Linked DNA regions of Homo sapiens. The protein of the gene in region 2 interacts with the protein of the main gene of each other region in a pairwise test. Each region holds a gene or a part of one and is shown on either strand. Other genes may lie near its edges.

Evidence for each region. Proteins that work in one complex are often made in the same cells at the same time.
Region 1: the proteins of DZIP3 (region 2) and CEP63 interact in binary tests that used the Homo sapiens proteins (3 or more experiments, as listed by UniProt).

Annotation. Positions count from the first base shown.
Region 1 is NC_000003.12:134,548,527-134,552,180, forward strand, and holds part of CEP63 (centrosomal protein of 63 kDa), read left to right. Parts: intron 1-535; coding exon 536-650; intron 651-1,536; coding exon 1,537-1,734; intron 1,735-3,399; coding exon 3,400-3,486; intron 3,487-3,654. UniProt on the Homo sapiens protein: Required for normal spindle assembly.
Region 2 is NC_000003.12:108,687,151-108,690,804, forward strand, and holds part of DZIP3 (E3 ubiquitin-protein ligase DZIP3), read left to right. Parts: intron 1-825; coding exon 826-946; intron 947-1,442; coding exon 1,443-1,586; intron 1,587-1,672; coding exon 1,673-1,774; intron 1,775-3,636; coding exon 3,637-3,654. UniProt on the Homo sapiens protein: E3 Ubiquitin ligase proteins mediate ubiquitination and subsequent proteasomal degradation of target proteins.

The sequences.
Region 1 (3,654 bases), about 26 Mb from region 2:
TCATGATCATTTGTACACTGACATTTTCTGTATGTAAAAGATAAAATTGCTTTTAACATGAACTGTTAACCTTTAGGCAAACAACAAGAGAAATATCATTTTACACTTTTTAGGTTATCTTTAAGTAATACATTTTTTGTTTTTACATTTATTTCTGGTTTTGGAAACCAGTAAGTATTTTCTTACTTTTATCTACATGTTAAATACACAAACATGCATACACACACATATTTTCTGCTTTATTCCTTTTGGAATACTTGGAGTACTTGAGATAGTCTTTGTTATTATTGAAGTATATGTGTACTCTTCCGTTTGACTAAAATTAAGTTTATTATTTTTGACGTTGGGACAACAGTTTACATTTTTATCACAGTTTTTTTATTGATTGGCTTTTTAGTAATATTTTAAATGACTGAGGTGATGTTTAAGATATTGGCTGGATATTTTTTGGATATCAAGAATGTAAATTAGATAGTCCAATTTATAGGTTTCAGGATTTTGGTTTTAAGTATGGGATCTTATTTTTGTCATACAGTTTGGAATCTGTGAGTGCAACGTGTAAACAGCTGAGCCAAGAACTAATGGAAAAATATGAAGAACTGAAGAGGATGGAAGCACATAACAATGAATACAAAGCAGAGATTAAGAAGGTAAAAATCTGCATACCTAGGATTGCAAAATTGTATGTGTTTATGGACAAAGCTGTGGATTGGGAGATTATAGGGGTTATTTTTAATGAGAAAAAAATGTAGTTCAAGGGACCACTTGATATTTAGGAGTGGAAGAGTTTGTGGAATGTGCATAGGGAAAGTGCCTTCTTTCTTTGGCATCGCCCCTGATGCCCAATAAATATTTTTAAGATAATTGAAGGCTGTCCCCTTTGAACTCAAAAACTTTATTTTAAACATGTTTTGATGAAAAGTTTTCTAAAAGACATACACTCTGTTGCTTGCAAAAAAATATGAACTGTCACTTAATATTTTCTTATTGCCTAAAGATAGTATTTATGTATTGTCTCCTGTGCTATGATGTAGTTAGTATCCTTGTCAGCTATTGAGGTATGCAGAGCTGTTTGTGTCTATATGAATGGGCCCTAACTGTCCTATTTGTTTGATTTGTATTTTTTGTTACTTCTTTAAGATTACTTCTAGTTCCTTACTTCCTCTTGTTCTATTTGTTATCCTGTGGACTAAGATACCATATGAGCAAAACTTTTAGATTCACAACTAAAAAAAAGAATGAAGGTCACAAGTACTCTCCTCTAAATTGTGTGCATGGACCTTGATTCTGGTCCTCAGCACTTGAATAACCCATCTCTCCCTGTTTTGAGGTATAATAAATGATTGTAGGTATAACCACCTGACCTTCAGTACAGATATGCAACTTGGTAAATTGCTAATTTTTCTGCAGATTTAATTTAAGAGAAATTTAATGTCTTGAGATAAGGTGAACTTTTATTTTATTAGCTAGTAACATATTATTCTATCTAAATGCTTTCTCTTAACTTTTGGTGCTTTCTTTTCTGCTTCTTTATAGTTGAAAGAACAGATTTTACAGGGTGAACAAAGTTACAGTTCTGCACTAGAAGGAATGAAGATGGAAATCTCCCATCTAACTCAGGAGTTACATCAGCGAGATATCACTATTGCTTCCACCAAAGGTTCTTCCTCAGACATGGAAAAGCGACTCAGAGCAGAGATGCAAAAGGCAGAAGACAAAGCAGTAGAGCATAAGGTGAAGCCTGAACAAAACCTTTTTTAAATTTGAAATTTGTTTTAAAGATGGAGTTGATTAAAGACATAATTTTCATAATATTTAATTCAGTGAATTTTTATTAGATACCTGCTTTGAGCTGAGAGTATGCTGGCTAGCAAAGAGTTTAGTGAGCATGGTGGGGAGGTGAGAGTAGACACAGACAAGTAAAGTGACTGTATCAGTGGTGTATGGTGAGAGTCACTAGAGATCACAAGCAGCCTGAATCTAGACCACTCGCTGCAAAGGCCTTCCAGAAGGTGTGATAGCAAAGCTAAGTTAGGAGCAAGCTGGGTGATGGGGAGGAAAAGTGTTTCAGGCACAGGAAAATACAGAGGTCTCTAAGAGAGAGTAGAAACACGCTTGCTGTGGTTGAAACTAGAGTACAAGTGGGATGAGTGGAAGGTATGAGACTGGAAAGCAGGGACTGGCTGCTGAAGGGCTACGTTAGCCACGTAAAGGAGTTATACTGTGACCTTGAGGTCAGTAGGGAATGGCTGCAAGCAGGAGTAAAATTCAGTGGTCCTTAAATGGAGAATAAGCAGGGAGACAGAGCACCCAGATGCTGTTACAGTGGTAAGATGGTGGCCTGAGCAGTGGGCAAGGGAGGCAGAGGGAAATGGATGAATTCTGGAGATACTGGGCTGGTAAAAATGACTGGGCATTGTATTTGATTGGCAGGGAAGGTGAGGTAGGCAGAGTTAAGGAATGGTGCTCCACAGGATTTAAACTTAGGCAACTGATGGAAAGTGATGCTTTTTAATGAAATAGAGAAAAGACAGGGAGCAAGTTTGGTGAAGGATGATGAATTTGTGTGAAAAGTACACAGACTGGGGAAACTGGTGGAGAGGACATTGGTTTGACACATTTGTTTGGAATAAAGGCTGGAATTTTGTATGGGTAATAGTCAATTCCACAGAAGGCCTGGAGTTGAAGATTAAAATCAGGATTAGGCATTTAGCTGTGGCTGTCCTTTCTTCATGGTGACATTTGAAACCCCCTGAGAGACTTAATGATTATAGTGAGAAAGCATAGCGTAAGAAGAGAAGTGACTCAAACCAAACTTAGGATACTTCTCATTTAGTGTAAAAAAGATGTTGGAATGAAGCTTAAAAAAAGGAGCAGTGAGGAGGGAAATCAGATAGTTTTTGCCAAGCCAAGGAAAGAAGGAATATTTTCAAATGGGAATGGTCAAGCACAAAAGCTGAGGGGAATGAGAACTGAATATAAGTTGTTATTTTGTGAATAAAGTACAATTCCATGTGACGTTGCAGGTAGAAGCCAAATTGGAGGAGGCCAGCACAGGAGAATGGGTAGGGATTTAAGGGGTTCAGTGGATTGAAACTTTGCTGCTTTGTCACCTGATTTATCCTATTAGAATGATATCTTCATCCCATTCATGTTCATTCACCTTAATAACATCTTAAAAATCTTTTTAGAAAGTCCATATATATATATATATATATATATATATATACACACACACACGTACATATATATATGTATATATATATATAAATATGTATATGTATATATATATAAATGAAGAATATGACTTAGCCTAATGAAAATTCCATGTGGAAAAATTTTGTAAGATGCATGTGATTTACATGTTATATTTATTTTTTTCTGTTTTCCCCTTTTCAGGAGATTTTGGATCAGCTGGAGTCACTCAAATTAGAAAATCGTCATCTTTCTGAAATGGTGATGAAATTGGAATTGGGTTTACATGAGGTACATAAATAGAAACTTAAGTTTTTCTACTATCCAAGCCTTCAAAAAAATTACTTTGTAAATATTTACATTATAAAGAGAGAATTAAGATCAACTTAGATCCTTTTGCAGAAATTTTCTCAAAGAAAATGAAGGTAAAACAATACTGGAAGTGAGCAAAATATGACT
Region 2 (3,654 bases):
CTTTTCACAAGTATTTTTATTTCAATACAAACATTTAATATATATACTGGCACACTTCATTATTAAATTATAATTTTATAAATTTCATAATAGTGAATAGATAATAAAATAGAACTCTAGTACAGTTGTTATAAATATGTATAAAAACATTATAAATCAAAGGTAGTTGCATAAGGCTGATGACATGACACTTCATTTGGGAAACAAAAATATTTCATTCTACTTTGTCCCATCAAAACTGTAGATGCAGGCTTTGGATCAATGGATCTTGGGAATTAAAAAGGAACATATCAATTAAAATAATTGTGGGTTCTTTCATTATATAATTAATGTGATTTTTAACCCTTGCTTTCCTGTTCTGTTTAATCTTTGTTTTCTGAGTTTTACGAAAGTACAACTATTAACACTGATAAAGAAGAGAGAAACCAATAGCAACATAGTTAAAAATAAATATGTTATCCTGAGCAAGAAACCACTTGAGAGATGGTATAAAGAACCCAATGCATAAATAAGTGGATAAACTTAATTTTCACCTAGTGAGCTCTCAAAAACGAAGTCTCTTTTTGGAAAGAAAATAAGTACTAAACTTTATCACTCATGAAAACATTAAGTATCATTAATGAACACAATTAGGAGTTTTCCTTTTGGTTTAAGATAAATGCAGATGGACCTGTGATCACTTTTTTAGATCAAAGACCTAAAGAGTCCTGTCTGTATGCTACATATCAATCATGCGATAGGATTTTATATCTCCTTTGGTGGGTACATCCTCAAAGGTACTAAGGAAAATCATTACTGCCCTTTCCTTTCCTTGATCTCTTGCAGAAAGGAACTTACAGATTTCTTACGGAAATTGAAGGATGCTTATGGAAAATCCTTGTCTGAACTGACATTTGATGAAATTGTTTGCAAGATTTCCCAGTTTATTGACCCCAAAAAGTCTCAGGTAAAATGCAAAAACAACCAAAAAACCTGTATCTCTCTGCCCTTAACTCTAGTAGTTAACTGTTTTAAATATCTCCATAACCTGTTCAGAAAATCAGTAACTTGTAATCATATTAAATCATCTATTAACAGTAAATAACAACTTCAACTTAACAAATGATATCAGAAGTCTTTTTGAAATACCTGTTACCTAATCATTCTAGAATAAAACTGACCTCCTTGAAATTTGCTCTAGTTTCTTTGAATGAGTCTAAAGAGGGAGAGATTTTCTAATTTTCTTGAAAGATTTATTTTAATTAAAAGAATGTATAGAGTTATTTTTGTTTTTACCTAGCTCTGAGTATATAAGTATTGCCACCATTTTGTTCAAGATTTCTCACAAATCTGATTATTTACCCTTTTGCTAGTTCTTACTATACCCCGTTCTGTACTAATGTTTCAGCTCTTACTGTTTTAGGATAATTCTGAAAAAATAAACATTATGTTCTTATTTTCAGAGTCAAGGAAAATCAGTGTCAAATGTTAATTGTGTTTCACCTAGTCATTCTCCATCACAGCCTGATGCTGCCCAGCCCCCAAAACCAGCCTGGAGGCCACTCACTTCACAGGGTCCTGCCACATGGGAAGGAGCCAGTAATCCAGTGAGACTGAAATTTTTGATTCTGAACACATTTAGATTTGGGAGAAAACAATGAGCTAAATTTAACATTTTCTGTATTTTCCCTAGGATGAGGAAGAGGAAGAAGAAGAGCCTTGTGTGATCTGTCATGAGAATCTGTCTCCAGAAAATCTTTCAGTTTTGCCTTGCGCTCACAAATTCCATGCTCAGGTAACACTTTAAATTTTCCCATTAATCAGCTAAATGAGATTCATACTGCCTTACTTATTATCATATACATGTATCATTATCCATTGTTGTCTCACAAGTTCCACTGGATATAACTCTGAGCTTTTGGGTACCACACAGAAACATTTATGCTTTTCCCATACATAGCCATGGATTGCATTGTGCTCTCTCAGATCTCCATCCACCCTACAGAAGAAGGGGACAATGTTGAGAGTCAGATGGTACACAGTAGGCAGTTCCTTCGAATAGAACTGGGACAAATGTCGATTGACGTGGTAGTTTAGTGGCAGAACTAGCAACAGCACCACTTGAAATTGACATGCTATAAATACCACATAGTGTCCTTTGTCCATAATTAATGACAGCCCCCTTTCATAAAGCATAAGATTTATCAGTCTCTTCAGGCTTCTATATTTGCTTTTGAAAGATACTCAGGCTTGAGTTTTGATGTTAGAAAAATGTGAGGCATGGTGGCTCACACCTGTAATCCCAGCACTTTAGGAGGCTGAGGTGGGTGGATCATGAGGTCAGGAGATCGAGACCATCCTGGCTAACACTGTGAAACCCCATCTCTACTAAAAATACAGAAACAAAATTAGCCGGGCGTGGTGGCGGGTGCCTGTAGTCCCAGCTACTCAGGAGGCTGAGGCAGGAGAATGGTGTGAACCCAGGAGGTGGTGCTTGCAGTGAGCCGAGATCGGGCCCCTGCACTCCAGCCTGGGTGATAGAGTGAGACTCCATCTCAAAAAAAGAAAAAGAAAAATATGAGGTTGGCATGTCTTTTGTTGATTCTTGGCATTTATATAGATTAAATTCTGGTGTTACTGCCACACAGTTGCTATTGGTATATAATTAATGATCCAAGTCCTCTGTTGCAGAGATGTAATTTGACACAGGAAAAGGTAGTCATAGTAAAGAAAGGCTTTTCAGGGAAGTAAATAATAGCCAGTTCAGTCAAGCCATGTTTGTAAGACATCATTTCAAAGATATGATATGTGGTACCTGGTACAGAATTATATTTTGTATTTGCTCTAATATGAAGATACATCCACAAAATGCCTAATCCCAAAAGTTTTCTAGGAAAGATCCTTAGCCATTGACTTTCCCCTTTGAAGTTTATAAGGTTCTGACAATTTAGGAAATACATGTTTAACAAAACTTATCCTACTCTTTGCCATTGCCCACAAGTAGAAAGCATATAATTCATTCAGGTCATTTTTTATGACTATAGTTAGTGGGCCTATTATATATAGTGCTTATTATTAATCCTCTCTCATCTGACCTGGCCCTCCATTATTTATATACGTAAAAATGATTTGTTTTTGGAGAGTCAGCATTCAAGCAAGTGACTTAACAGATAGTTCATAGCCGAAAATTACTGTCATTATCGCCAAAGAAAACAATCTGAGAAGTGTATTCATGATCTAGGGATTTTAACTGCAAACACCATAAGCATTTCATACCAGGTACTAGTGACTTTTGTATCATTAGTTATGACTTTTTCTGGATTATAAATGAGAACAGTATATAGTAAACCAAAGAATATAGCAAGTTTCTCCAATTTCCTTGTCAGGAAGGATTGCTAGTCATCTTGAAAATTGAGGTTGAAGGAAGCATTTCTAGTAGAATAAACTGGCTAAAAGGTATTGTGCAGTTACCACCTATTTTGTTTAGCAAACCACAGGGAAGGTGCCATGGTTGCAGCAATTGGTTTGACGATCCACAGCGTAAGGCTTTAAAGATCCACCAGAAGACATGTTGGTTGGTAACCCTGATGCATAGAGTGACAACTGCCTCTGCTAGGCTACATCTGAGAGACTGACATAAATCTTTTTGCTCCTTAGTGCATTAGACCATGGTTG